Homo sapiens: one gene and its partners. The protein of the gene in region 1 purifies or fractionates together with the protein of each later gene. This does not show direct contact. Each region holds a gene or a part of one and is shown in the gene's direction. Other genes may lie near its edges. The genes, in order: PRDM16, SON, DMBT1, FXR1, IQGAP3, ATAD3A and NDUFA9.

The links.
Region 2: the proteins of PRDM16 (region 1) and SON purify together in Homo sapiens (affinity purification with mass spectrometry, with the first as the bait; one large-scale study listed by BioGRID). This does not show direct contact.
Region 3: the proteins of PRDM16 (region 1) and DMBT1 purify together in Homo sapiens (affinity purification with mass spectrometry; one large-scale study listed by BioGRID and IntAct). This does not show direct contact.
Region 4: the proteins of PRDM16 (region 1) and FXR1 purify together in Homo sapiens (affinity purification with mass spectrometry, with the first as the bait; one large-scale study listed by BioGRID). This does not show direct contact.
Region 5: the proteins of PRDM16 (region 1) and IQGAP3 purify together in Homo sapiens (affinity purification with mass spectrometry, with the first as the bait; one large-scale study listed by BioGRID). This does not show direct contact.
Region 6: the proteins of PRDM16 (region 1) and ATAD3A purify together in Homo sapiens (affinity purification with mass spectrometry, with the first as the bait; one large-scale study listed by BioGRID). This does not show direct contact.
Region 7: the proteins of PRDM16 (region 1) and NDUFA9 purify together in Homo sapiens (affinity purification with mass spectrometry, with the first as the bait; one large-scale study listed by BioGRID). This does not show direct contact.

The regions. Positions count from the first base shown.
Region 1 is NC_000001.11:3,436,203-3,440,029, forward strand, and holds the end of PRDM16 (histone-lysine N-methyltransferase PRDM16), read left to right. Parts: 3' UTR 1-2,419; downstream 2,420-3,827. UniProt on the Homo sapiens protein: Binds DNA and functions as a transcriptional regulator. Displays histone methyltransferase activity and monomethylates 'Lys-9' of histone H3 (H3K9me1) in vitro.
Region 2 is NC_000021.9:33,552,525-33,556,932, forward strand, and holds part of SON (protein SON), read left to right. Parts: coding exon 1-2,867; intron 2,868-4,408. UniProt on the Homo sapiens protein: RNA-binding protein that acts as a mRNA splicing cofactor by promoting efficient splicing of transcripts that possess weak splice sites.
Region 3 is NC_000010.11:122,626,350-122,630,757, forward strand, and holds part of DMBT1 (scavenger receptor cysteine-rich domain-containing protein DMBT1 isoform e precursor), read left to right. Parts: intron 1-3,490; coding exon 3,491-3,644; intron 3,645-3,938; coding exon 3,939-4,141; intron 4,142-4,408.
Region 4 is NC_000003.12:180,964,215-180,968,622, forward strand, and holds part of FXR1 (RNA-binding protein FXR1), read left to right. Parts: intron 1-3,836; coding exon 3,837-4,040; intron 4,041-4,408. UniProt on the Homo sapiens protein: mRNA-binding protein that acts as a regulator of mRNAs translation and/or stability, and which is required for various processes, such as neurogenesis, muscle development and spermatogenesis.
Region 5 is NC_000001.11:156,524,905-156,527,565, reverse strand, and holds the end of IQGAP3 (ras GTPase-activating-like protein IQGAP3), read left to right. Parts: intron 1-966; coding exon 967-1,080; 3' UTR 1,081-2,161; downstream 2,162-2,661.
Region 6 is NC_000001.11:1,518,150-1,522,557, forward strand, and holds part of ATAD3A (ATPase family AAA domain-containing protein 3A), read left to right. Parts: intron 1-771; coding exon 772-841; intron 842-1,991; coding exon 1,992-2,157; intron 2,158-2,398; coding exon 2,399-2,468; intron 2,469-4,408. UniProt on the Homo sapiens protein: Essential for mitochondrial network organization, mitochondrial metabolism and cell growth at organism and cellular level. May play an important role in mitochondrial protein synthesis. May also participate in mitochondrial DNA replication.
Region 7 is NC_000012.12:4,679,534-4,683,941, forward strand, and holds part of NDUFA9 (NADH dehydrogenase [ubiquinone] 1 alpha subcomplex subunit 9, mitochondrial precursor), read left to right. Parts: intron 1-2,671; coding exon 2,672-2,767; intron 2,768-4,408. UniProt on the Homo sapiens protein: Accessory subunit of the mitochondrial membrane respiratory chain NADH dehydrogenase (Complex I), that is believed not to be involved in catalysis. Required for proper complex I assembly.

The DNA.
Region 1 (3,827 bases):
TTTTTTTTTGCAATATGACCCCGTCTCTCTGAAGTGGGACATTCGGACGGATGGAGCCCTCAGCGTGTCTTTTCAGCAGGAGCAGAACCGATGAGAGCCGCCCTTACCGTTGGTCTCCGGATCCCCCAGTCCCATCCCGCCGTTTTCGGCTGTCTTCCTAACCGTCCTGTCTTCTCTTGGCGCTCTTTCCTTCCACCTTTCCCAAGAGTCCTGGTTGCACGTTTTAAGTCATATATTTTCGTCCCCCTGAAAATGATGGCAAGCCCAGTTTCTCCTGAGCATTCAGACCCCCAGGCCCCAGCACTTGGCGTTTTCAGGAGGCCCTGTTCTTAGAGCCCCTGACAAAGGCAGCACTTATTTCCTGGGCTGGTGCGCCCCAAAACACGGCCCCGACACTTAGTGTGGCCCCAGGCCCCAGCGAGCCTCGCCCTCCCAGTTTTGCTCTGCCCAGCAGTGTTGGTGCCCAGAGATGACAAGGGCCAGGGAGCCTGGCCCGGGTGTGAGAATTCAGAGATTCTGGCCTCCAGCTGTCACCACACCGTAACGGGGCCATGTAACTGTGCAGCATGGACAGGGATGCGACGGGGCAGCTGGCTGTGTCCATGGCCAGGTGGCCAGGGTCAGGGCTGCAAGCCAGGGGTCCAGGGCCCTTCCGTTCAGCCCAAATGCTGCCCCAATGCTAACTCCTTGGATTGTCAACCCCCATCCCCCAAATGGAAATTCCGAAGGAGGCCTCCTCGCACCTGCCCTCCGCTGCTCCTCAGACCCCAGCCCCCAGCGAGCCGACGTCCCCACCCGTTCCTGCTCTCATCCCCAGGTTGGGCACGTGGGGTTCCTCCTCTGTGGGCCTGGCAGACCCTTCATGAGTGGGACCCAAGATATCACTGACTTCAACCCAGAGGATCGAGCCCCTGCACCCTGCCTGGGGCCCTGGGGTGTGGAGCAGTGGCTGGGGTGGGCGTGGTGTGGCCTGAGAGACTGCCCAGCTGGAGAGGCCTTCCTTTACAAGGCCACGCGTGCAGCTGTCCCATCCAGACCCCGACTGGCCAAGACCTCCACGTCCCCAGAGTCCAGCCCTGGAAATTCCAAGGGCCCTGGCGTCCTCTGCCTTCCCCGCTTCCCCATGAGCGTCTGCAAAACACTTGCCTGAATACATATCACGTATTTTAGACTCGAAGCCTCAAAGCACTGGATTGTGGTCCCCTGCCCCCTCTGTCCCGTCCCCCTGCCCAAGTGACTGAAACCTACTGAGCTATATTCACTGTGCTGTCCTAGGGGGAGGGAGAGCAGAGCTCGCCCCTGCACTGCAGCCTTGTGGGGGAGGGCAAGGCTCTCCTCCCAGCCAGGGACGCCAGGACATAGCTGCTCCTGGTCAGTGGAGGTCAGCCGGGTATCAAAAGCCATGAAACTGTGTCTCTGTAGCAATGAGTGATACTGTGACAAAACCATCCTTGCATTCTTCCTAGAAGAGTTCCTCTGCTCCTTCCATTCCATTTTTGTGTTTGTTTTGTTCTTTTCTGTCACTGATCCGTATTACCACTTTTGGAAAAAAATAAATAAATAAATAAATAAAAGGCAGCTTGAGTTTCCAAACGTGTGATTCACTTGTGAACAAAAGTCATTCTAACAATTGCCTTCAGCGTCACGTGCATTGCCACTGCGCTTTCGGCACGAGGGATGCTGAGCCCTGGTGTCAGAGTCGTAATTTAAAGCGTGTGTGTATATGGACTTTGTCCCTTAAGGTCGATATAAAGAATCCTCGCAGAATCACAGACCTGTGCCGCCCGCCACCTTCTGCCATTGTTACATTACAGATTTGGTTTAGTTTTGTTTTGTTTTGTTTTTTCTTTTAGAACTGTATAGTATTGAAAAAGAAATCAAATGTAAATGTCTGGTTTTCATATAATGTTTAAAAAGACCATTGAGAAGGAGGCTGGCGCTCGCCCCATGTCCCCCTTGATTGTAAATTGCTTCTGTTCTGTTTATAAGTAAACTGTGCATGACTCCTGCTTAGCGGTCATTATCGTGTCTGTTGGTGAAATTTTTATTAAAAGGAAAATTCTGTAGATGCACTTATTGAATATGTGATTAGGATCTACGTCTGAGACTAGGAGTCCTGAACTGCTGACGCGAAAGAGGCGCAGTTCCCAATTAATACGGAAATCGCTGTGGGAGAAGAATGAAATAAGACGTGAAGTGTAGGAAATCATGAAAAGAACAATTTTGCAAATTGCATTCTGATGCTTGTGATGAACACAAATGTACTTGTGTAGAGACATTTCCTTAAGAGAAAGCCTAGGAGAAGCCGATTTGGAGGTTAATGCTGTAGAATAGGACTGTATACCAAATGTAATCTTTCCAATGCTCCAATGAATTTATACATGAGATTGATATGCAATAAATCTGTGTGCTTTTCTAAGCCTCGGTGCCCGCGAGCTTCATTGAGGGAGAGGCCCCAGGCCTGTGGAAGGGAGAGGAGGAGCAAGCCAGGGCTCGGCCGAGGTCCAGGCTCCCTGGCTTTGACTGAGGAGTCCCGGGGCCAGGCCCTGATGCCCTTGGAGCTTTGTTCCCTCCACCCTCCGGGGCAGACTCCTGGCTATTCCCATTTTCCAGAAAAGAATAAGCTCAGGAAGGCATCAACTCCCTGGATGGCCCCAGAGCGAGCACAGTGACCTCCAGGTGTGTCCCTCTGCCAAGCATGACAGCCTCCAGATGCAGCAGCCTCCAGGCATGTCCCCCAACTGTGCCTGCCTCCAGGTACACAGGACCCAGGGCCCACCCCACAGGCCTTGCCCCAAGGCTTCCTGGGGATGCAGCATTCCCTGTTGGAGGTGCTGGGGGAACCCGTCTTCCATGCCAGCAGTCCCCACGCTTTTTAGCACCAGGGACTGGTTTCGTGGCAGACAGTTTTTCCAAAGACCAGGGGATGGATGGTTTGGGGCTGATTCAAATGCATTACATATATCGTCCACTTTATTTCCATTATTATTACATTAGAGTATATAATGAAATAATTCTACAACTCACCATAGTGTACAATCCGTGGGAGTCCTGAGCTTGTTTTCCTGCAACTAGGCCTTCCCATCTAAGGGTGATGGGAGACAGTGACAGATCATCAGGCATTAGATGCTCACAAGGAGCGTGCAGCCTCGATCCCTCGCACTCGCAGTTCACAATAGGGTTCCCGCCCCCATGAGAATCTCACGCCGCCACTGATCTGATGGGAGGTGGAGTGCAGACGGTGATGCAGACGATGGGGCGTGGCTGTAAACACAGAGGAAGCTGGGTTCCGCTGCGCCCCCCATGCTGTGTGGCCCGGTTCCTAACAGGCCAAGAACTGGTCCTGGCCCATGGCCTGGGGTCTGGGGGCCTCTGTTCTAGGCCAGTCCTCAACCCACCCCTTCCTAAGGGTGGCCCTCCCCATGTCAGCCTCCCTGAAGTCTGTGTCCACCAGCACCTCACATGGCCTGATGCTGCCCTGACAAGGGACAGCCACAGGGGTGGGATAGGGGGTGAGCTAGAGGCCCCGGGGCTGGAGCAGACCCAGTCCCCTCAGGGGCTTCTCTTGTCTACCCCCAGACTGCCCCTGGGATTCCTTCCTGGGGCCCTCCTGCCTCTGGGAGAGGCTCCATTCCCCTACCCTGATTCTGCTCTGACCCAGAAGCCTAGGGGGCGTAAACCTCAAAGGGGAATGTCCAGCCAGACCGAGCCCAGCCTCCCCAACCAGGACTGCCCCAAACCGTCTCACCCACGTAGGCCCCCACTGGCTCCCTGCTGACACAGAGTTTAACTGATGTCACCCAGGTGACCTGGCCTCCCACCCCCAC
Region 2 (4,408 bases), on another chromosome or scaffold:
TGCTGACCGGTCTATGATGTCATCGTACTCTGCAGCTGACCGATCTATGATGTCATCTTATACTGCTGATCGTTCAATGATGTCTATGGCTGCTGATTCTTACACCGATTCTTACACTGACACATATACAGAGGCATATATGGTGCCACCTTTGCCTCCTGAAGAGCCCCCAACAATGCCACCGTTGCCACCTGAGGAGCCACCAATGACACCACCATTGCCTCCTGAGGAACCACCAGAGGGTCCAGCATTGCCCACTGAGCAGTCAGCATTAACAGCTGAAAATACTTGGCCTACAGAGGTGCCATCATCACCATCTGAAGAGTCTGTATCGCAGCCTGAGCCTCCTGTGAGTCAAAGTGAGATTTCGGAGCCTTCAGCAGTGCCTACTGATTATTCAGTGTCAGCATCAGATCCCTCAGTTTTAGTATCAGAGGCTGCTGTGACTGTTCCAGAACCACCACCAGAGCCAGAATCTTCAATTACGTTAACACCTGTAGAGTCTGCAGTAGTAGCAGAAGAACATGAAGTTGTTCCAGAGAGACCAGTGACTTGTATGGTATCTGAAACTCCCGCCATGTCAGCTGAACCAACTGTGTTAGCATCAGAGCCTCCTGTTATGTCAGAGACAGCAGAAACATTTGATTCCATGAGAGCCTCAGGACATGTTGCCTCAGAAGTATCTACATCCTTGTTGGTTCCAGCAGTAACTACTCCAGTGCTGGCAGAGAGCATTCTGGAGCCGCCAGCCATGGCTGCCCCAGAGTCTTCAGCTATGGCTGTCCTGGAGTCTTCGGCTGTGACCGTCCTGGAGTCTTCGACTGTGACTGTCCTGGAGTCTTCGACTGTAACTGTCCTGGAGCCTTCGGTTGTGACTGTCCCGGAGCCTCCTGTTGTGGCTGAGCCAGACTATGTTACCATTCCTGTGCCAGTTGTTTCTGCGCTGGAGCCTTCTGTGCCTGTTCTGGAACCAGCGGTGTCAGTCCTTCAACCTTCTATGATTGTTTCAGAACCATCTGTTTCTGTCCAGGAATCGACTGTGACAGTTTCAGAGCCTGCTGTCACAGTCTCAGAGCAGACTCAAGTAATACCAACTGAGGTGGCTATAGAGTCCACACCAATGATACTGGAATCTAGTATCATGTCATCACATGTTATGAAAGGAATTAATCTATCCTCTGGTGATCAAAATCTTGCTCCAGAGATTGGCATGCAGGAGATTGCATTGCATTCAGGTGAAGAACCACATGCTGAGGAACACCTGAAAGGTGACTTTTACGAAAGTGAACATGGTATAAATATAGACCTTAATATAAATAATCATTTAATTGCTAAAGAGATGGAACATAATACAGTGTGTGCTGCTGGTACTAGTCCTGTTGGGGAAATTGGTGAAGAGAAAATTTTGCCCACCAGTGAGACTAAACAGCGCACAGTATTGGATACCTACCCTGGTGTTAGTGAAGCTGATGCAGGAGAAACTCTATCTTCTACTGGTCCTTTTGCTCTGGAACCTGATGCAACAGGAACTAGTAAGGGTATTGAATTTACCACAGCATCTACTCTCAGTTTAGTTAATAAATATGATGTTGATTTATCTTTAACTACTCAAGATACTGAACATGACATGGTAATTTCCACCAGTCCTAGTGGTGGTAGTGAAGCTGACATTGAAGGGCCTTTGCCTGCTAAAGATATTCATCTTGATTTACCATCTAATAATAACCTTGTTAGTAAGGATACAGAAGAACCATTACCTGTAAAAGAGAGTGACCAGACATTAGCAGCTCTGCTCAGCCCTAAAGAAAGTAGTGGAGGAGAAAAAGAAGTACCTCCCCCTCCTAAAGAGACACTGCCTGATTCAGGATTTTCTGCCAATATTGAGGATATTAATGAAGCAGATTTAGTGAGACCGTTACTTCCTAAGGACATGGAACGTCTTACAAGCCTTAGAGCTGGCATTGAAGGACCTTTACTTGCAAGTGATGTTGGACGTGACAGATCTGCTGCCAGCCCGGTTGTAAGTAGTATGCCAGAAAGAGCTTCAGAGTCTTCTTCAGAGGAAAAAGATGATTATGAAATTTTTGTAAAAGTTAAGGACACTCACGAAAAAAGCAAGAAAAATAAGAACCGTGATAAGGGGGAGAAAGAGAAGAAAAGAGACTCTTCATTAAGATCTCGAAGTAAGCGTTCCAAATCTTCTGAACACAAATCACGCAAGCGTACCAGTGAATCTCGTTCTAGGGCAAGAAAGAGATCATCTAAGTCCAAGTCTCATCGCTCTCAGACACGTTCACGGTCACGTTCAAGACGCAGGAGGAGAAGCAGCAGATCAAGATCAAAGTCTAGAGGAAGAAGATCTGTATCAAAAGAGAAGCGCAAAAGATCTCCAAAGCACAGATCCAAGTCTAGGGAAAGAAAAAGAAAAAGATCAAGCTCCAGGGATAACCGAAAGACAGTTAGAGCTCGAAGTCGAACCCCAAGTCGTCGGAGTCGGAGTCATACTCCAAGTCGTCGACGAAGGTCTAGATCTGTGGGTAGAAGAAGGAGCTTTAGCATTTCCCCAAGCCGCCGCAGCCGCACCCCCAGCCGCCGCAGCCGCACCCCCAGCCGCCGCAGCCGCACCCCCAGCCGCCGCAGCCGCACCCCCAGCCGCCGGAGCCGCACCCCTAGCCGTCGGAGCCGCACCCCAAGCCGCCGGAGAAGATCAAGGTCTGTGGTAAGAAGACGAAGCTTCAGTATCTCACCAGTCAGATTAAGGCGATCAAGAACACCCTTAAGAAGAAGGTTTAGCAGATCTCCCATCCGTCGTAAAAGATCCAGGTCTTCTGAACGAGGCAGATCACCCAAACGTCTGACAGATTTGGGTGAGTCATTTTAAAGTTTAATGGGATGGTAGTAGAAAATGTTTTAAACCTTAATTTTTTTCTGACCTTGAGTCAAGTGAAATACTTAGTTACTGGTTTAGGATAAATGTTTCTGTCTTTAAGTTTTTATTATTACATGGTACTGTATTTAGGAACTACTGGGATCAGTGTATTATAATTAGAGTTAAAAAGTCCTGTTTCAGAGTATAATAGAACCAAGGTGTTTCCATATTTGAATGTTTTATTTTGTTTTAGTTATCTTGCCATAGCTAAAAATTGAAAGCAGAAACAGATGTAGAACTCTAGCTAAATTAAAAACAAGCTAAGTATATGCTCAGATTGTTATTGTATGTGTTCTAACATACATCCTTGCAACTAAGCCTAAAATTACAATGTTCCTTTTTAAATAAGTTAACATATCTTAAAATGGCATTATAGGACTGTTAAATGAAGGTAATTCTGATTGGTATAGTTGGTAATGGAAGTGAGTGGGGAATTTTGCGTGTGGGGGTTATTTAATTGGGTAGGTGATACTAGCTAAATAAAGTTAAATATTTTAGATCAGTGTGATTTTTAATAACCTGTTCTGCTTTACTTTAAAGATAACTGTTCTAATTTCCCCTGATTTTTAGTGTGCAGAGGTGATTAAAACTTGATCGATATGAATGATTACCTATAATAAATATGGATAATTTATCCTTATCCCAGTATACTGGACATTTCTAGGCCAGGATTGTCTAAAGAAGAAGAGGTTAAGAGTAAAAAGGGAGAATCTGCATTCAGTTCAACAGAAGTTTTCTGAGTTCTTTTTTATTCACAGCAGAGGAACAGTATGTAATTCCTCAAGTGATTGCAAGTGGTGGAGGAGACATGGGTAAAATGCATATATGTCTCTCTTATAGTAACACTGTCTAAAAAGGACAGAATGTGATTACTATAATACTGATAGAGGTGAGGTACTTTAGGAACACAATGGGAAAAGGGGAAAAGGAATGTTAATTCTGACTTAATGACAGCTTGTTAGAAGAGGTGGCACTTCGGCTGGGCATGGTGGCTCATACCTGTAATCCCAGCACTTTGGGAGGCCGAGGCAGGTGGATCACCTGAGGTCAGGAGTTCGAGACCAGCCTGGCCAATGTGGAGAAACCCCATCTCTACTAAAAATACAAAAAATTAGATGGGTGTGGTGGCACGCGCCTGTAGTCCCAGCTACTCGGGAGGCTGAGACAGGAGAATCACTTGAACCTGGGAGGTGGAAGTTGCAGTGAGCCAAGATGGCGCCACTGCACTGCAGCCTGGGCGACAGAGTGAGACTGTCTCAAAAAAAAAAAAAAAAAGAGGTGGCACTTGAACTGGGGCTCAAAGAGTGATTTAAGGTGTCAGAAGGAGAGTAAGGTCATGATAATTTTGTGAAATGAAATAGGCTTTGGCAGGTTTATATCTTAGAGTGTGTGTAGTAGGGTGATCATTATAGTTGTGTAGTAACCTATTGTAATATTCTAATGGGAAGCTCAATATGTGGACTTAATTCCCTGAATGAG
Region 3 (4,408 bases), on another chromosome or scaffold:
ATCATTTTAAGTCCCTGTATTGTATTCTATTATACAGATATGCCATGAATTATTTGACAAATCATCAGATGCTAGATATTTGTTTGTATTTCTTCATTACTGTAAATGATTTTGTGATGAAGAATATTTTTATAGATAATTTTTTTGCATACCTCACTAATTTTTCCTTTAGGATATAAATGGGTTTACTGGACCAAAGTCAATGTCATTGTAGTGCCTGGTACATAGAATGTACTTCATGCATATTAACTTTTACTGTGTTAGGTATTTTAAGATCTTGCTGTGTGTATGGTCAAACTACCATCAAGAATGGTTGTAAAATTATGGAATGATGTAAGAGACAAACTGATCTTCTTCCTCAGAGCTCACAATATTATTTTGTACACAACAAACTAGAAAATTACAGTTGTGACAACTGTTTCCAAGGAAAAGTTCAGTGTGCAAAGAGGAAGTATTAGTAGAGATCTTCCTTGATTGGGGAGTTAGGGGAAGTTCCTTATGGAAGTGACATTTAAGCTGGGAGTTAATAGAGGAGCAGGTTCATTTGCTGAAGTGTCTTCTAACCAGAAGGGATGCTTTGAAGGCCCTAGGGTGGGAAGGAGCTTGGCTCTTTGAAGGAGGGTGGGGTGCGGGCAAGGAGGGACTGCAGGAAATCTGTCGGGTGAGGCCAGATCATTCAGGGCCTTGTGGGTGGGTTAAGACTCCCATCTTTATCCTAAAGGTAGGGAGGCTGCAGAAAGATTTTAATCTTGAGAATTAGCTAATTGGAAATATATTTGCAAAAGATCATGTTTATCTTTTCTGCCAAACTGCATTTCCTGAAGGCAGGGGCCATGTCTGCCTTTTTCATAATGTATCCTTATTATCTAGCATTGTGTCTGCCTTTCAAGAACTGTTTATTGAAGGAATAAATGAGTGAATGAATGAATGGATAAATTAATGAATAAATACATAATTACTGTTGGCATTTTGGCATACATTCCATACACTGTATACACACACACAAACACACACACACACACAGTATGGCATGCTTTATATCCCATTGTATAACCCATCATTTTCATTTAAGTGTATATAATACTTTTTTCATGACCTTAAAATTAGCATTTTTATAACATTGAAATTATTTGTATAGAAGAAGGTTTAATGACTATATGATTTTCCACTGTATAGATATATCATCATTTAGTTAAACGGTTACTAATTGTGGGGCAAAAACATTGTTTCCAATTATATTTTATAATGTTAAGTGACTATATACAATAGCATATTTTATAACCATTTATATTTAATGATTAGAAATATGTAACTCGTATCCTTGTCTCTGAAAGTTTGACTTTATCCTTAATTATTTCCCAGTGTAGAAATAGAAAGGGAGGGCAGGCCACATGATCTTCAAGAAACACTGTCTTCCCATCAAATGGGAGAACGTATTTCTATCTCATAAGGGACTTGTATCTAGGATATATAAGTGACTCTTGTAGTCAATGATAAAAAGTCAAATAACCCAACTGAACAATGAGCAAAAGACCTGAAAGATATTTCTCTACAGAAGATTCACAGATAGCAGAGAAGGCATTGGAAAGATGCTCAATGTCATTAGCCGTCAGGGTCATGCAAATGAAACACCCAGTAGGTGGGCTGTAGTCAAAAAGCCAGATAATAGCAAGTGTTGATGAGGATGTGGAGAAATTGGAAACCTTATGCACGGCTGCAGGGAATGTAAAATGGTACAGCCACTTTGAGAAGCAGTTTGGTGGCTCCTCGAAAGGTTAGACCTGGAGTCACCATATGACCCAGCAGTTGTATTCCTAGGTATATACCCAGGAGAAATGAAAACATATGTCCATACAGAAACTTGTATGTGAATGTTCAGGACAGCTTTATTCATAGTAGCCAAATGTGAATGCAATGCAAATGTCCATCATGGTGAATCGAGAAACAAATATGATATGTCCATGCAGTGGAGTATTATTTGGCAATAAAAATGAATTTAATAGTGGCCGGGCGCGGTGGCTCATACCTGTAATCCCAGCATTTTGGGAGGCCAAGATGGGCGGATTGGCTGAGGTCAGGACTTCGAGACCAGCCTGGACAACGTGGTGAAACCCTGTCTCTACTAAAAATACAAAAATTAGCTGGGCATAGTGGTGGGCGGCTGTAATCCCAGCTACTTGGGAAGCTGGGGCAGGAGAATCGCTTGAACCCGGGAAGCGGAGGTTGCAGTAAGCTGAGATCGTGCCACTGCACTCCAGCCTGGGTGACAAGAGCGAAACTCCATCTCAAAACAAAACAAAAGAAAAAAAAGAATTTAATATTGATTTATGCTACAACATGATGAACTTTGAAAACACATTGAGAAGTCAGTCAAAAAAACTACCATATTGTACAATTTGTTTTATATGAAATGTCCACAATAGGCAAATCTATAGAGACAGAAAAGTAGATCAGTGGGTGCCAGGAATGGAGGGTGTTGAGAAGAAATGGGGAGTGATTGCTAATGAGTACAGGGTTTCTTTTTGGGGTGATGAAAATAATCTAAAATTGACTGTGGTGATTTCAGAGCTCTCAGTATGCTAAAAACCATGGACTTATCCCCTTAGAAAAAGTAAACAAAGAGTTATGAAAAAGAAAAAAAAAGACGTTTTAATTTCTATCACTGAGTGTGCACATGTTTTTAAAAAGTTTTTATTACTATAAACCAACCAACAAAATGTTTGACCACTTAATATTTATCCTTTTCTGATAAATAACAATAGCTAATATTGCTGGGTGCTTATGTGCCTGGCACTCTCTAAGAGTTTATATAGACATAGAAACCTATCTTATGTTTATGTATAAATGTTCATATATACATATCTTATTTAATACCCTCATCAGACAGATGAGGCAGATGCCATTACCACTCTCATTTTTCTGATGAGGAAACTGAGGCAGAGAGGTTAAGTAACTGGCTCCAGATCATGGAGCTGATAGAGGCAGAGCCAAGATGCAAACCCAGGCTTCTTGTTGCAGAAACCCTGCTCCTAACCCAACGTTGTGCTACTTGTGAATTGGCAGAGTCCTGTGCTCATGGAAGACGCTAGGGAACACACTGTGTTATGGAGTGCTCTCCACGGGTCAGCACTGTGTTCAGCCAGGACTATCCCACGTCCCTGTCTGTAGCTGATTGAACAATGATAGCTGTCACTTTGTTGCTTTCTTGGCATTTTTGCTAGAGGTGACACATGCTCCCTCTGAAGCTTGGGTCACCTCCTCGCAGAGGGTTGCTGTCCAGGCCTAACAGGGAAAGCAGGGACTTGAATCAAAGCTTCTAATGTTGGGCCACCTAGAACCAGGCCCAAGAGAGGGGACTTGTTTACAGGGAAAGTTAAGTCTTGTTATAAAGTGCAGAAGATGAAACTGGATGATACTTACACAGATGATTCCTTGTCACAAAATACCTGAAGACCTGGTACAATGGAGATGTCCCCTCTCTCCTCTCTAGGACCCTCTTCAAATTGTGGTGGCTTCTTATTCTATGCCAGTGGGACATTCTCCAGCCCATCCTACCCTGCATACTACCCCAACAATGCTAAGTGTGTTTGGGAAATAGAAGTGAATTCTGGTTATCGCATAAACCTGGGCTTCAGTAATCTGAAGTAAGTAATGCCTGGTCATCTGGTGAGGGGTGAGTTCCTCTGCAGCACACCCACTGGTTTAGACTGTGTCCTGGGCTGGGATGCTTTTCACTCTCATGTGCCATGGACAAGCTTTTGGTGGCTTTGATTCCTACCATAAAGCATCAGGGAACACTGATGTCCTTTGACTTAATTGAGGAAGAGCTAGAAGAAAAACCTGTATTCAATGGCATCCCTCGTAAAGTGCAAACTATTTATAAAATGGAGGGGCAATAGGAATTTCAATGTTGACTTGAATACATTTTCTCCATACAGATTGGAGGCACACCATAACTGCAGTTTTGATTATGTTGAAATCTTTGATGGATCATTGAATAGCAGTCTCCTGCTGGGGAAAATCTGTAATGATACCAGGCAAATATTTACATCTTCTTACAACCGAATGACCATTCACTTTCGAAGTGACATCAGTTTCCAAAACACTGGCTTTTTGGCTTGGTATAACTCCTTCCCAAGCGGTAAGTGCACACTAGACCATGCCTATGAGGCTTGGTGGATTTACCCAGCTGCCTCTTTGGGGGCACCATGGTTCCCCAAGGAAATCAAAGAAGGGCCTCAGCGATGCACGGCCCATTCTCTTTCTCTTGGCACTGACTGTGTGGGCAGGCCCTTGGGAAGGCAGCAAAGGGTGCAGACTGGGGGTTCCACCTGGCCTTGGGTCTGCCACCAACTCTCCAGGGGACCTGGTGACTCTCCTTCAGAGCCACCCCTCTCCGTCTGGAGGT
Region 4 (4,408 bases), on another chromosome or scaffold:
ATTGCAGACTATTATTATATTTCTGAAAATGTTTAATGCAAAAGACAGTTAACCAGTAATCACATAGAAATCAAATATATTCTCATTGATTTTTGAACCATACATTATTAGCATAGATAATCAGACTTGGCTTATTGGATGATGCGTATGATGAATTCATTGAATAATTTTATTAGCTTTTGTGGGAAGTCGGCTTATTGATGAGAGCTTACTCTGGCAAAATGCTTTTGTTGAGAGTAGATAATTATGTGAGAGGTAGAGAAACATCTGGATTCAAGAAAGCTGTGCAAATTGTTCAGTAGATGGCACTCTTAGCTCTGAATCTTAGTGGAATTGATAACATTTTATTTCTTGAAATAGTTACTGAACCTGAGTGGGCTTGGAAAAGCAAGAAAAACCATTTGAATTTGGTTGTAGACGTTCATGTATACATTATATCAGAGGGACTTGTAGTTGATTTATATATATATATATATATATATATATAATGAGTACTGTAGTTTTATCAGTTTAATAGGAACTATAAGAAACATTTCCCAGTATAACATCTCTGAAGTTGGTATGTGTGTTAAATTGGACATCTTACAACTTTAGCAGCATTTTCTTTTTTAATGGCACATAAAATAATGTCTTAAAATTGATGGCCTCTTGGAGTCGATAAAACGTGATTATTTTTAGCTGTTAAGCTTAGCACAACCAACCATTGAAAAATGATATAAACCATCTTCATAAGGTGATTTTAGAAGTTTGAGGGGAAAATATGATTTTAAAATTGGTTAAAAACACGATGTCATTATGTTTTGTTACTTTTTTTTTTTTGAGACGGAGTTTCGCTCTTGTTGCCCAGGCTGGAGTGCAGTGGCACAATCTCGGCTCACCGCAACCTCTCCCTCCTGGGTTCAAGTGATTCTCCTGCCTCAGCTTCCTGAGTAGCTGGGATTACAGGCATGCACCACCATGCCTGACTAATTTTGTATTTTTAGTAGAGACAGGGTTTCTCCATGTTGGTCAGGCTCGTCTCAAACTCCAGACCTCAGGTGATCTGTCTACCTCGCCTCCCAAAGTGCTGGGATTACAGGCGTGAGCCACCAGCCTGGCCTAGTGTCATTACTTTTAAAGCTTGTTTAAAAAAACGACTTTGAATCACCAACCTGTGTTTTACAAAATTGAGAGGCTGGAATAAATGGTTTCCCTGATTTTATTAGAGTATTTGTTTTCTATTGCAGTAATAAATTATCACAAACTTAGAGGCTTGACCACAGAAATTTATTATCTTATAGTTCTGTTGGTCAGAAGGCTGACATGGGTCTCACTAGGCTAAAATCTTGTCAGCTGGGCTACGTTTCTTTCTGGAAAGTCTAGCGGGGATTCCCCTTTCAGTAGTTTAGAAAATTTCTCTACTTTTAAAGACCCAGTGAGATTAGTTTGGACCCACCTGGATAATCCAGGATAATCTCTCTATCTCAAGGTCCTTAACCTTAGTCACATTTGCAGAGTCCTTTTTGCTATCACAGAAACATTTAATATGTGTTATTAACAGTTATTTAATATGAGTAATGTTGAGCACTAGCCAATACATTAAAATTTTGGGGGGTACGGCCTCAATATCTGTTTTACCTGCTGAAATCTATGATTTAGACATTCCCTCTAAGTCTCTTGAATACTATATGTAGGTTAAATTTAAGGAAGACTTTACTTGCTGTGACACGGGGTTAGATAAATACTACACTGGATTTCTAAGGATACTTCAATATGAACTTTTGAGAGAGTCTTCAGAATGAAGTATTCTTCATTTGCCCTGAATTTTGGTAATGTTTTCAGGTAGGGTATAGGTTTGTAAATAAATTCAGAAGTTCTTAAACATTCTGAAAGGCTTTTTTTTTCACTATTCAAGGAAAGATAAATTGCCTTCATTACAACTTTTATGACATCCTGTTAATAAAGTACTTTTTGTCATTTGGTGAAATAAATGTTAGGGGAAATTAATTCCCTTCCCTGAGATTCTAATCCCAACAAAGAATTGAAAGTGAGTAATAGAAATTTGATGTATTCTTTGAAAAATACACATCCAACTAATTACCTAATTGTTTTTATAATTGACTAGTTACATCTATTAACACCATGTAGAGAAAAGGTAGGCATCCTAGAGTTATCGTTAAAGGAGAAAGGAAGTGAGGCACCTTCATGTATAAAACTTTACATTTTATTCCCTGCACCTTAATACTTAAAACTTCTTATGTCTGAAGAGCTCTTGTTTGCATTTTTCCTCAAATGATTGCAGAGTTTAAATATAGGGAACTTCAAGGTATTTCATGAAATCACTCTTATCTGAGAGTTTAGCAAATGAACTTCAAAATAATGCAGCAAATTATTTGGTTGAGAAAATTGTTATACACTCTGCCAGGCATTTGAGGACATATAAGATGGAGTTCCACCCTTTATCATAGACCAATTTTGAAGTAATTCCACAGGGGGAAAAAATAACAACATGGCACAGTCTGTGATAGATGTGGGGCGATTTTAGGATAACAAAAAATGGGGAGAGATCTGTCTTAGTTGCAGTGGTCTGAAGTTAGAATTTGAACTAGGCCCTGAAGGAGATATATTTGGTCATATAAGAGGGAAAGAAGAAGTGGCATCCCAGAACTAACAAGTGGAAATGAATATGATAGTGATTGAGTCATATGTATCTGACATTTGAGTTACAGTAATTATTAAATAATGATAATGTAGGCCTCTGATTATATCTTTGTGGTGTTTAAATAAATTTTTGAAAGGTCACCATTACAATAGTTGCAGTGTTAGAAATGGTCTGTAAACTTTTAAAGGCAATGCTGAATATTTGTCTCACTGGTCATGGCTTCAGTTCTGTTGTCAGGTGAGAGACCTTCTGTTTCAGAGAAACCTTAAATTCTGTTTAGTAATTGCAAATATTAGGTTGGTGCAAAAGTAATTGCAGTTTTTGCCATTAAAAGTAAGAAAAGCAAAAAGTAAAAGTAGTTACTTTTAATGGCAAAAACCGCAATTTAAGATGCTAGTAAAACATGCCATCATTTTATATACAACCTACTGGAAAAATTACTTCTAGCTTATAATAAAGATGCCATCAATTATAAGAAATATCTTGATTTCAGAGATGTTAACATGTGAAAAGTATACCCTAGAATCAATGAAATTATGGTGAAATACACTATACAGTTAAACTATTCAGTTTTCTAAATATGATTAATTTACTCAAATATTGAAGTTATTTTTATTGTACTAATAATTTAGGTTACTAAAACCCAAATCAGCAGAAACATTTGACTATCCATACTAAGTACATTCTAATATTGATAAATGATGTTCTGTATGGTTTTTTTTTTTTGGTGCCAAAACCTAGGAATTAATGTTCTGTATATTTTCTGTAATTTTTCTGTTGACTGCATTTCTGCACATCAGTTTTTTTTTTAACTTCCATGACTTTGTATTTCCTGGATATTATCCCCTTTTGCTGATGAGATGGTCACACCTTTGACTATATTACATGACATAGCACATCTTAGCAGACTGCAGTGAGGGATTCTTCTGCTGGTTTTGAAGAAGTGAGCGGCCTTCTGCACATCAGTTTATTTTTTAATCTGTATTAACTAGTAGATACTATACTAGTATATTAATAGTATAATAATTGATTATTCCTTAGTACGTTTCAGATTGATTTTAACTTTCATGGATCTTTCTTTGAAGCAGCCAAACAGTATTGCTTATTTAAACAATAATTTGTAGGACATAATTTTGAACATTTTAAAAGGCTTTTTATAGAAATCTAAGTGGTTTATGTTCTTTTCTTTTCCAAGGTACAAATTCTGAGCTGTCTAACCCCTCTGAAACGGAATCTGAGCGTAAAGACGAGCTGAGTGATTGGTCATTGGCAGGAGAAGATGATCGAGACAGCCGACATCAGCGTGACAGCAGGAGACGCCCAGGAGGAAGAGGCAGAAGTGTTTCAGGGGGTCGAGGTCGTGGTGGACCACGTGGTGGCAAATCCTCCATCAGTTCTGGTAGTCTTTTCTATACTCTGTCAGCATCCATTATTTGTAAACAGTTTAATTTTACAAAAGTTAATTCATCTCCCAGGGCCACCCATTTTTGGAAGTTTCTCTTGCTACTCATTGTCTTAGAGAAAGTAGTGGACCATATAGCAGTATCAGGAAAAGCCCTCGTAGAGTGTTTCTCAGTGAAGGTTTACTTAGAATATACTGGTCAGAACTTTAGTTGGCAGCTTTTCTTTATATGATGAGGGTCAGATGTTTCTCTCTTCAGGTTTTGGAGGCTTATTTAATTAGAATTTTTTTTGTTTTCCCTAGAATTTTGGGGTTATGTTTTTTTGTTTGCCAGACAGACCCAGAGATTTCTAATGCACAGAGAG
Region 5 (2,661 bases), about 150 Mb from region 1:
CCAGTGTTCAGGAAAGGAGTGAAGCAACGGTGTTTTTGGTTGTGGTTGTTGTTGTTGCTTTTTTGGGTTTTTGTTTGTTTGTTTTCTTGAGACGGAGCCTTACTCCGTCACCCAGGCTGGAGTGCAATGGCGCAATCTCAGCTCACTGCAACCTCTGCCTCCTGGGTTCAAGCGATTCTCCTGCCTCAGCTTCCTGAGTAGCTGGGATTACAGGCGTGCGCCACCACACCGGCTTTTTGTGTATTTTTAGTAGAGATGGGGTTTCACCATGTTGGTCAGGCTGGTCTTGAACTGCTGACCTTGTGATCCGCCCGCCTCAGCCTCCCAAAATGCTGGGATTTACAGGCATGAGTCACCATGCCCAGCCGAGCAGTAGTTTTTAATCCAAATCTTTTTGCTCTGATGTTTTACCTTTTGAGTAAGAAAAATGATTTTGGCCGGGTGCAGTGGCTCACGCCTGTAATCCCAGCACTTTGGGAGGCCGAGGCGGGCGGATCACGAGGTCAGCAGTTCAAGACCAGCCTGGCCAATATAGTGAAACCCTGTCTCTACTAAAAATACAAAAATTAGCCTGGCGTGGTGGCACCTGCCTGTAATCCCAGCTACTCAGGAGGCTGAAGCAGGAAAATCGCTTGAACCTGGGAGGCGGAGATTGCAGCGATCCGAGATCGCGCCACTGCACTGTAGCCTGGGAGACCGAGTGAGACTCCGTCTCAAAAAAATAAATAAATAAAATAAGAAAAACAATTTCAAGCCCTGGTTCTGCTTGAGTTGACATTTGATCAAGTCACTGTACCTCTCTTGCCTCAGTTTCCTCATTTGTGAAGTGGGATTTCAATGCCCTACTTCAGTGGCCAGTGCCACTGGTGACTGCAGAAGGCCCCATGATGTGAGTGTTTTGTACACCATCTGACTGGACCACATTCAGAAGCCCTTAAACTCCCCTCCCTGCCTCTTCCCTCCTAGGATCTCCTGCAGCTCCAGTATGAGGGTGTGGCTGTCATGAAACTCTTCAACAAGGCCAAAGTCAATGTCAACCTTCTCATCTTCCTCCTCAACAAGAAGTTTTTGCGGAAGTGACAGAGGCAAAGGGTGCTACCCAAGCCCCTCTTACCTCTCTGGATGCTTTCTTTAACACTAACTCACCACTGTGCTTCCCTGCAGACACCTAGAGCTCAGGACTGGGCAAGGCCCAGGGATTCTCACCCCTTCCCCAGCTGGGAGGAGCTTGCCTGCCTGGCCACAGACAGTGTATCTTCTAATTGGCTAAAGTGGGCCTTGCCCAGAGTCCAGCTGTGTGGCTTTTATCATGCATGACAAACCCCTGGCTTTCCTGCCAGATGGTAGGACATGGACCTTGACCTGGGAAAGCCATTACTCTTGTGTCTGCTACTGCCCTCCCACAGTCACCCCAATATTACAAGCACTGCCCCAGCGGCTTGATTTCCCCTCTGCCTTCCTTCTCTCTGCACTCCCACAAAGCCAGGGCCAGGCTCCCCATCCCTACCTCCCACTGCATCAGCAGTGGGTGTTCCTGCCCTTCCTGAGTCTAGGCAGCTCTGCTGCTGTGATCTGCACACCCTCCAACCTGGGCAGGGACTGGGGGGATGCAGTGTGTGTTAGTGCCCATGTGGCATTGTGGCACTGTTGCCCCCCATGGCGGCATGGGCAAGATGACCTTCCATTAGCTTCAAGTCTTGTTCTCTTGTCTGTGGTCTGTTTAATATGTGGGTCACTAGGGTATTTATTCTTTCTCCCATCCTTACACTCTGGATCATTGTGCAGACTTAATCAGGGTTTTAACGCTTTCATTTTTTTTTTTTTTTTTTTTTTTTTGAGCTCAAAGAGAGTTCTCATTTTCCCTATTCAAACTAATACCCATGCCGTGTTTTTTACCTTGGATTTAAAGTCACCTTAGGTTGGGGCAACAGATTCTCACTCATGTTTAAGATCTTGTTATTTCAGCTTCATAAGATCAAAGAGGAGTCTTTCCCTTTTCTCTTTTACCCTCAGGATTCTCATCCCTTACAGCTGACTCTTCCAGGCAATTTCCATAGATCTGCAGTCCTGCCTCTGCCACAGTCTCTCTGTTGTCCCCACATCTACCCAACTTCCTGTACTGTTGCCCTTCTGATGTTAATAAAAGCAGCTGTTACTCCCACATCTGTTGTTAACCCTTATTTCATTTTCTGTAGAGCCGGCCTTTAAGTTCTGGAACACAGCTCCCTGAGAGAACTGGGGAATCCTTCCTGCAGCCTCCCCCAGCCCTCTGCCTGCCTCCGGTGTGGTCCTACTCTGCCTGCCTGAGATCGTAAAAGCTTAATGAGATGTGGCATTTATTCTCTCTTCCTTCCCCCGGGGGACAGAGAGGAGGAAGGAATGCTTAGGTTTCTATTCTGTTTTTATCGGCCACTCTGAAGACTAAAGCTGAGAAGAGAAGCCACTCTAATTTCTACCCCACCCGTTTTACACACAGTTCCTGCAGGTTCTTTTCCTGAGCCTTGGGTGGTGATATCAAAGGTGCTTAAGCCATAACTCCTTAGGTATTGTAGATTCTACACTCTGATCAAAATCTCCTTTCTGAAGGGAAAGCTCCCTCCTTTCCTCCTTGCTTTCAGAAAGTAGGGAGGGAAGTCTGTTGGGGAGGGGACAGTAGAGACA
Region 6 (4,408 bases), 1.9 Mb from region 1:
CCCCCACACAACACGGGCAGGCACACACCCACATGGACACTCACACCTGTAAACACACCCCCATACAGACAGGTACGCACATACACCCCGCACACACACACACAGATACGCACACACACACCACACACAGGTACGTACCCCCCCACACACACACAGGCGCACACATACCCCCCACAGGCTCACTGGCACCCGCGCACTCGGGCACACACACAGCCCCACACACACAGGCGCACACCCACACACACATGGGCATGCCCCCCCATAGACGGACACACACACACCCACACACATGGGCGCGCGTACACCCCCCTATACACATGGGCACAGCCCCCCCGCACACATGGGCACGCACACAACCCCCCCACATGGGCGCACAGACCCCACACACACATACGGGCACACACGCCTTCCCGTCACAGGGACACACACACACACCCGCACATGGGCACACACCCACACACGGGCGTACACACCCCCCCCCACAGGCACGCACAACCCCCCCACCCCCCGCACGGGTACACACACACACACACACACACACCCAAACGGGTGCACAACCCACCCACACATGGGCACAATCACCCCCACACACATGGGCACAGTCACCCGCCTGCACATTCGGGCACCGTCACCCCCCGCAAACGGGCACCGTCACACCCCGCAAACGGGCACACTCACCCCCCTGCACACTCGGGCACAGTCATCCCCCGCACACATGGGCACAGTCACAGGTTTTAAAGGCTTTTCTCTTTTTCTGCGGCTTCTTCTCAGCAACTTCTCAATGAGGAGAATTTACGGAAGCAGGAGGAGTCCGTGCAGAAGCAGGAAGCCATGCGGCGAGGTAGGCTGTCTGCTCTCCTGGCTGGGGCGGAGGTGGCGGGGGCTGCTTGTGGACCCGGCGTGCACTCTGAGCCTGAGTTCTGCCGCCCGGCCCCTCATAGCTACCAGTGCAGTGGGCGAGGCCTGCTGGGGCTCCGCGGGGTGGGGCTGCCTCTCGGAAGACACCTCTGTCTGCGAGTGGACGCCAGGATCTGTTCAGGGAGGGCAGGAGCTGCTTCACTTCATGGGAAGTACAGGGGCCTTTTTTTTTTTTTTGAGACGGAGTCTCGCTCTGTCACCCAGGCAGGAGTGCAATAGCACGATCTCAGCTCACTGCAACCTCTGCCTCCCAGGTTTAAGCAATTCTCCTGCCTCAGCCTCCCGAGTAGCTGGGATTATAGGCTCCCGCCACCACGCCCAGCTAATTTTTTTGTATCTTCAGTAGAGAAAGGGTTTCACTGTGTTGGCCAGGCTGGTCTTGAACTTCTTGATCTCATTATCCGCCTGCCTTGGCCTTCCACAGTGCTGGGATTACAGGCGTGAGCCTCTGCGTTCTGCCTAGAACATGGGTCTTTACTGTCCTGGTTTCAGTGGGGATCACAGGTATTTGGTGCCATGTGGCATTTGTTGGCGAGTGCTCCAGGCAAACGTCTGTCACCACTCTTCACCGTGGGTGGGCTTGTGGCGAGGTGTGTGCGTTTAATGTTCAGTAGCCAGGCACGTGGCACGTCACGCGTGTCTGAGTTCTGACAGCTGTGTTTCTGTGTGAGGGGGGCTTCCTTCAGAACTCCGCGTTCTGGTTTTTTGCTTCAAAGAGCTCGTCCTGAGAAGTTGCCTAGGCCTCTGGGTCGGATTTCTGCCCTAATCCATGGGCAGGGCCGGCCTGTGGCGCTGTCCCTACCAAGGTCTGTGTGTGTCTGTGGCATGGACCTGTCCGTGGCCTTAGCCTATTGGCGGCGTGGGCCTGTCTGTGGCGTGGGCCTGTCCGTGGCCTTAGCCTGTCAGCAGTGTGGGCCTGTCCATGGCGTGGGCCGGTCCGTGGCATGGGCCTGTCTGTGGCGTTGGTCTGTCCGTGGCGTGGGCCGGTCCGTGGCGTGGGCCGGTCCACAGTGTGGGTGGAGGTGGACGCGCTGCACTGCATGGTGCTGAGCTGCCCTGCCTCTCTGGGGCAGCCACCGTGGAGCGGGAGATGGAGCTGCGGCACAAGAATGAGATGCTGCGAGTGGAGGCCGAGGCCCGGGCGCGCGCCAAGGCCGAGCGGGAGAATGCAGACATCATCCGCGAGCAGATCCGCCTGAAGGCGGCCGAGCACCGTCAGACCGTCTTGGAGTCCATCAGGTGAGCACTGCCGAGGCCCGGGCCGGCCACAGATGGAGCCCCGCAGGTGTGAGTCGCTGGTCCCAGGGCGCTCTCCAGCTCTTCCAGGCCTTGCCGCCGTAGGCTGACTCCTTGGTGGGGGCACTGCCCCTCTGTCCTGGCAAGGCCGTGCCGCCATGTCAGGGCCTCACCCTCAACCTGCTCTCGCTGCGTGGCACGGATCTTCGTGTCCTTCCTGGTCACACCACTGCTTTCCCCGCAGGACGGCTGGCACCTTGTTTGGGGAAGGATTCCGTGCCTTTGTGACAGACTGGGACAAAGTGACAGCCACGGTAAACATACTCATAAAACAGGGCTGGCAGGTGGCTGAGGGGCAGCATGTGGGGGCCTCCTGGAGCCCCAGGTCCTGTCCCTGCCGGCTCTGCACAGCCCTGTAGCTCTCCCAGCAGGGAGGAAGCCCACGTTGTACCTGCTGGCCTCGGCTTCTCCTCCCTTCTCAAGCTGGGAGAAGAAAACGCAGTTGCCAGCCTGGGCCACACAGTGAGACCCCATCTCTACAAAAAATCAAATATTAGCTGGGTGTGGTGGCAGCCCCTGTGGTCCCACTACTCAAGAGGCTGAGGTAGGAGGATCACTTAAGCCCAGGGAGGTTGCAGCTGCACTGAGCTGAGATCGCAGCACTGCACTCCATCCTGGGCGACAAAGTCCTTGTCTCAAGAAAAAAATTGTCGATAGTCGTGGCTCACACCTGTAATCCCAGCACTTTGGGAGGCAGAGGCAGAGGCGGGCGGATCACGATATCGGGATCGAGACCATCCTGGCTAACACGGTGAAACCCCGTCTCTACTAAAAAAATACAAAAAATTAGCCGGGCGCAGTGGCGGGCGCCTATAGTCCCAGCTACTCAAGAGGCTGAGGCAGGAGAATCACCTGAACCCGGGAGGCGGAGCTTGCAGTGAGTCGAGATCACGCTACTGCACTCCAGCCTGGGCCACATAGTGAGGCTTCTTCTCAAAAAAAAAAAAAAAAAAAAAAAAAAAAAAACCAGAAGGCAACCCTGACTCCATTTTGCAAAAACCTTCTTTATTCCTTATAAAACCCTGAGAGTTTGAAGTTCACAGATTCTTCTCTCGTTTAAAGCCTCACTCTTTTGTGCCCAGCCTCCGGCCTGCTGTGGTGGCGCCCCACGTCCCACATGGCTGTGTCCTCCGTCCCCACCCCGCCCAGCACACGGTAGGTGCCCGGCACTGAGTGGGCACTTGCTCTGCCGTGGTGCCGGCGCCCAGAGCTGTGACTGCAGCGCCTGCCGGTGGCCTGGTCAGTGTGACGGTGAATGTTGCAGGTGGTGTTGCCACCATGTTGGTGAGACCGTGTCACGTGAGGACATGACGGAGCTGCTTAATGCGCCGATGACTTTTGTTTGTTTGTTTTTAGAGACAGGGTCTTGCTCTGTGGTCAGACTGGAGTGCAATGGTGCCATCTCGGCTCACTGCAACCTCCACCTCCCCAGTTCAAGCAGTTCTCCTGCCTCAGCCTCCCAAGTGACTGGGATTACAGGCTCACGTCACCACACTCAGCTAATATAGGCCTGTGCCACCAGGCCCGGCCAATTTTTGTATTTTTAGTAGAGATGGGTTTTCACCATGTTGGCCAGGCTGGTCACGAACTTCTGACCTTAAGTGATCCAGCCGTCTTGGCCTCCCAAAGTGCTGGGATTACACGGGTGAGCCACCGGGCCTGGCCTAATTCATTTTTTGTTTGTTTGTTTTTTGAGACAGAGTTTTGCTCTTGTTGCATAGGCTGGAGTGTAGTGGCGCGGGTCCAGCTCATTGCAACCTTTGCCTTCCGGGTTCAAGAGATTCTCCTGCCTCAGCCTCCCAAGTAGATGGGATTACAGGCATGTGCCACCATGGCCAGCTAATTTTTTGTATTTTTAGTAGAGACGGGGTTTCTCCATGTGGGTTAGGCTGGTCTTGAACTCTTGACCTCAGGTGATCCACCTGCCTCAGCCTCCCAAAGTGCTGGGATTACAGACCTGAGCTACTGTGCCCAGCCAGCCTAATTGATTTTTAAAACGAGTTAGAGATTTTGGGTTAGTCTTGTTTTCCAGGAATAAAGTACCATTTTTAGTGGCCAAGAATGTACCAGAGGGTGTGGCCCTGTGACATCCGGCTGGGTCTGTCCAGGGCCCCGCTCAGCGACCGAGGCTTTCTAGGATTTATGCTGCCAGTTGCAGAGAAAATGGCCCTGAGTGAGGGCGCTGTGACTGCCC
Region 7 (4,408 bases), on another chromosome or scaffold:
GAAAGAAAACCAGAAGGAGGAAGTTGGCAACTATATTGGATGCTGCCAGGAGGTTGAGTGAGTGACAGCATAGAGATTCATGGTCACCTTAATGACCTCATTTGAACATTAGGCAAAGGGCAGATTGGATTGCAGTGAGATTTGAATGGCAGGATAGGAAGTGGAGGCAACAGTTAGGTAACTATTTGGAGAAGTTTCCCTGTAAAAGGGAGCAAAGGAAACGGGTAAAGAGAAGGCTATGAAACATGAATGTCTTGTCAAGGGAGGTACCACCCTGGATTTGGAAGATGGTACATCTTGTTTATAAATTGGTAAGAATGGTCCAGGAAAGAGATGTCACTTCATGACTCAGGAGATGAGGCCGACAGAAAAGGAGCAAAGTCCTTCAGGAATTGAGAGGAGTTGGATACAGAGTGCAAATGAGGGTTTGACCTTTGTAAAAGGCAAACATTTCTTCAACTTTAACAAGGAAAAGAATTCAAGGATATATGCAGATGCAGGTAGGTTTGGCTGTGGGAATGTTAGGAGTATCTTTTCTTGTTGGAATGTGAGGTTAGCTAAAAGGCAGGATGGAGTGGGTCAGAAAAGTGTGTGGAAAATTTGAGGACAGAAGATAGAAAGTATGCCCTGGGAGAACAGGAAAGAGCATTTCCTAGGAGAACATGTGGGATTGCCAAGCAGAACTGAGTGTTCCATTGGAAATTACTGATAAAAAAATAAGGTGAAGTCAATCAGTTCAATTGTATTTCGTCTACAGTTTTGTCCTTCTGGGGTTTCAGGCTCAGAGAAGGCACATGTTTGGGTCAACCAGAGTGAGTTTTGCTTAGCAAGTATAGTGGGTAGGGGCCTGGGAGACAAGATTTTGCTGAGGATATTTGCAGAGGAATAACTGTGATGCTGAGCCTTGAAATCTAAGCTGGGAGGATGCGGGCTTCAATGTACCTTTGGCTGTGAGGAAGGGCACTTAAACTAGTGTTCCGGTTGCACTTGATGGAACACAAAGTGCTTCAGAACAGCTGAAAAGGAAACCTATTATGTAGAGTTAGTTAACCCATGATACCAGTTTTGTTTGTCATCGTAAAAATTCAAGTTGCTCTTGGCGTAGCATGTATTATATGTCCTGTAATGATCCTTACAAATCCCTCTGGAATTTGAAGAACCCTGCTAAGGCCTTTGTCTGATATTTCTCCTGGCTGATAGTTTCATGTTTTTTAGTAAAGTATGTCAGAATAATGAGGTTCTCACTGAATTACCTTCACTCAGCTCTTGGTTGTCACAGATTTACTGTCATGAAGCATGCAAATGAATTAGGAAATGGGTAAAGAAATATTAAAATGCATTATAAGCACTGATACTTATTAATGCTAGGTTAAAATCGTACAGAACTATTCAGATTAATGGAATAGAGCGGAACGTTCAGAAACAGTCCCATTATATGTAAGGATATAGTATGTGATAAGGGTGACATTTCAGTATAGGGAAAGAGGCAGTACAGTAAATGATTCTGTAAGTAGCATTGAAGCAATTGGCTTACATCTTGGGAAAAATATAATTACATGTTTACCTTATATAATGTACAAAAATACGTCACAGAAGGAACTTTATAGTAAAAAAAAAATCTTTTTTATAAGGTTTAGACAAAATATGTAGAAATTTATGTCACTGCAGAGGAATTTTCTAACTATGAATCCAAGCCATAAAGAAAATCAGTAGTTTTGGTTAAATTAAACAGTTAAAATTTTATGTGCACAAAACACTGTAAATAACACTAAAAGTTAAAATACAAACAATAAAAGGTATTTCCAACAATATCACTAAAATATAGAGAATTCTTACAAATTATTTTTATAGACAGGGACTCCAGGAGGAAAGAAAAGATAGATGTATAAATGACCAAAAATTCGTGAAGAAATGATCTCTCATATTAAAGACATAATAATTAAAACATGAGATACCTTTTTTTTTTTAACCTAGCAGATTGGCAAAAATTTTATTTTCTTATGACAACTCATTTCGGGTGGAGGGGGCATTCTTATATATAATTACATATATATAATTATAATTTATATAATTATCTAAAATGTTATATACTTAACATTTTATATAAATTGATAGAACCATTTTGAAAAGCAGTTTAGAAGTATTCAATAAAAGCCTTAAAATTTTAAAGTCTACATTGACCCAGTTCCACTTCTACAAATATATTCTAAATGCGTAATCATGGATAAGTACAAATATTTATTACAAGAATGTTCATTAAAACATTATAAAAGAAAAAAATTTTAATAGCATAAATATCTCAAAACTGGCAATTGATAAAATAATTGTGATTACATGCAGTGTAATATGTTGTCATGAAACATGCAATAAAATAATGATGTGGAAAGACGATTATGATGTAATGTTAAATGAAAAAGACATTACGGAATAGAATGGATTGTGTATTTATTAAAAGCAGAATAATGTATATATGTAAGGGGATGAGAAGGATATAGATCAAATATATTAACTATCTTTCATAATGGGATTATGGGTGATTTTTCTTTGTGCTATTCTGTATCTACTACAGTGCATATATGTTTCCTTTTTTATAAGGAAAATGTTATTTTGTTATAAAGGAAACTTTGTGAGAAGCGTGTAATTGAAAGAACTGTGTATTGTCTTTTTATAGTCCCAGTCGGTACCTCCTTTTCCACCTGGTGAAGTACATCTTTGCTGTGGCTCACAGATTGTTCCTCCCATTCCCCTTGCCGCTTTTTGCCTATCGGTAAGTAGAGTGCTCCTTTTGTGTGACTTCTGAAAAAGCCAGCTCCACACACTTGTTCCTAATGTTCTCCCTTAGGGTTATAGGGTGTGTGAAGGGCTGGTCTCCAGATCTCCTAGTGTTATGACATTAGCATAGAGAAGAAGCAGAAATAGATTAGTGTTGGTTAAAAAAAAATATATTGGAACATTAAATCTTCCCAATTCCCAAAAGTGAATCTTCCCACTTCCCAAAAGTGAAGATGCAGTTCTTCACTTTCTCCAATTTAAAACCATCGAGTTTAATTTTGGAGAAATATCTTGCTAGGCACATATGTAAGGGGCAGTCAGGTTCCCCTGTGTTTCATGTCGCTCATTATTAAATCAACCTGATCATGCTATTGGGGAAAGGAGTCAGGCTAATTCAGACTTGGATTTGTGGTTGCCTTCTCTTCTTTCCCTGCTTCTTAGTTTACTTCTTCTCTTTGTGGGTTAAATATCTTTGACTTGGCTGGGAGTGGTGGCTCATGCCTATAATCCCAGTACTTTGGGAGGCCAAGGAGGGCAGATTGCTTGAGCCCAGGAGTTTGAGACCAGCCTGGGCAATATAGCGAAGCCCCATCTCTACAAAACATACCAAATTAGCTGGATGTGGTGGCATCTGCCTGTAGTCCCACCTACTGGGGTGGAGGTGGGGTGATGCAAGAGAATTGCTTGAGCTTGGGAGTTCAAGGCTTCCAGTGAGCTGAGATTGTGCCACTGCACTCCAGCCTAGGTGACTGCTACTGCGCACAGTGGTGCACACCTATAGTCCCAGCTACTTGGGAGGCTGAGGTGGGAGGATCACTTGAGTTCAGGAGTTTGAATCCAGCCTGGACAACATAGTGAGACCCTGTCTCTGGAACAAAAAAAAAAAAAAGAAAGAAAAGAAAAACCTACTGCCCTGAGGTAACTGTTGATGGGAGCTCCTTTCTCGTCCTAGGTTTTATATTGTCCTGATTTGAACCAAATAAAATAAAATCTTGAACTTACCATGTCACACCCTAGTGGTCTGGTTAAGGAGACTGTCACATCCATTGTGCCACAAACTGATCTTCATTTGGGTTTTCATCCATTCATTCAACAAATGTTTATTGAATGCCTACTATGTCTTAGATAATGTACTAGGTACTCAGAAGGTTACAACAAACACTCAAAAATCTTATGGTCAGAATGTTACAACAAAAACTCAAAAATCTTATGGTCTAACAGGGGTACCAGAAAAATAGACCACTAGAATGCAGGGTGATAACGATATTTATTGAGTGTTACACCTTTCAGACTATTCACTTTGTCTCCTTTAATACTCAGTTATCTATAAAGTAAGTAAGGAGAGTATGTGGAGTGAGTGGAAGAGGAGGCCACAGAGTAAGAGAAACTTACAAGAAGGCCAAAAAGTGATCAGGCATTTAAGTGGGAAATGAGAGTTTGGAATTCTAGATACCAAAGGGAATGGAGTGTTTTCAGGAGAGAATCGATGTTTTAAGAAGGGGAACATTGCTGTTCATTCACATGTATCTCAAGCCCCTAGAACAATGCCTGGTACACATTAGGCACTCTGTTAATATTGGTAGAATGAAGTCTTACAGAAAAGTCAAATAAGATAAAGGACCAAAAAATGTCTACA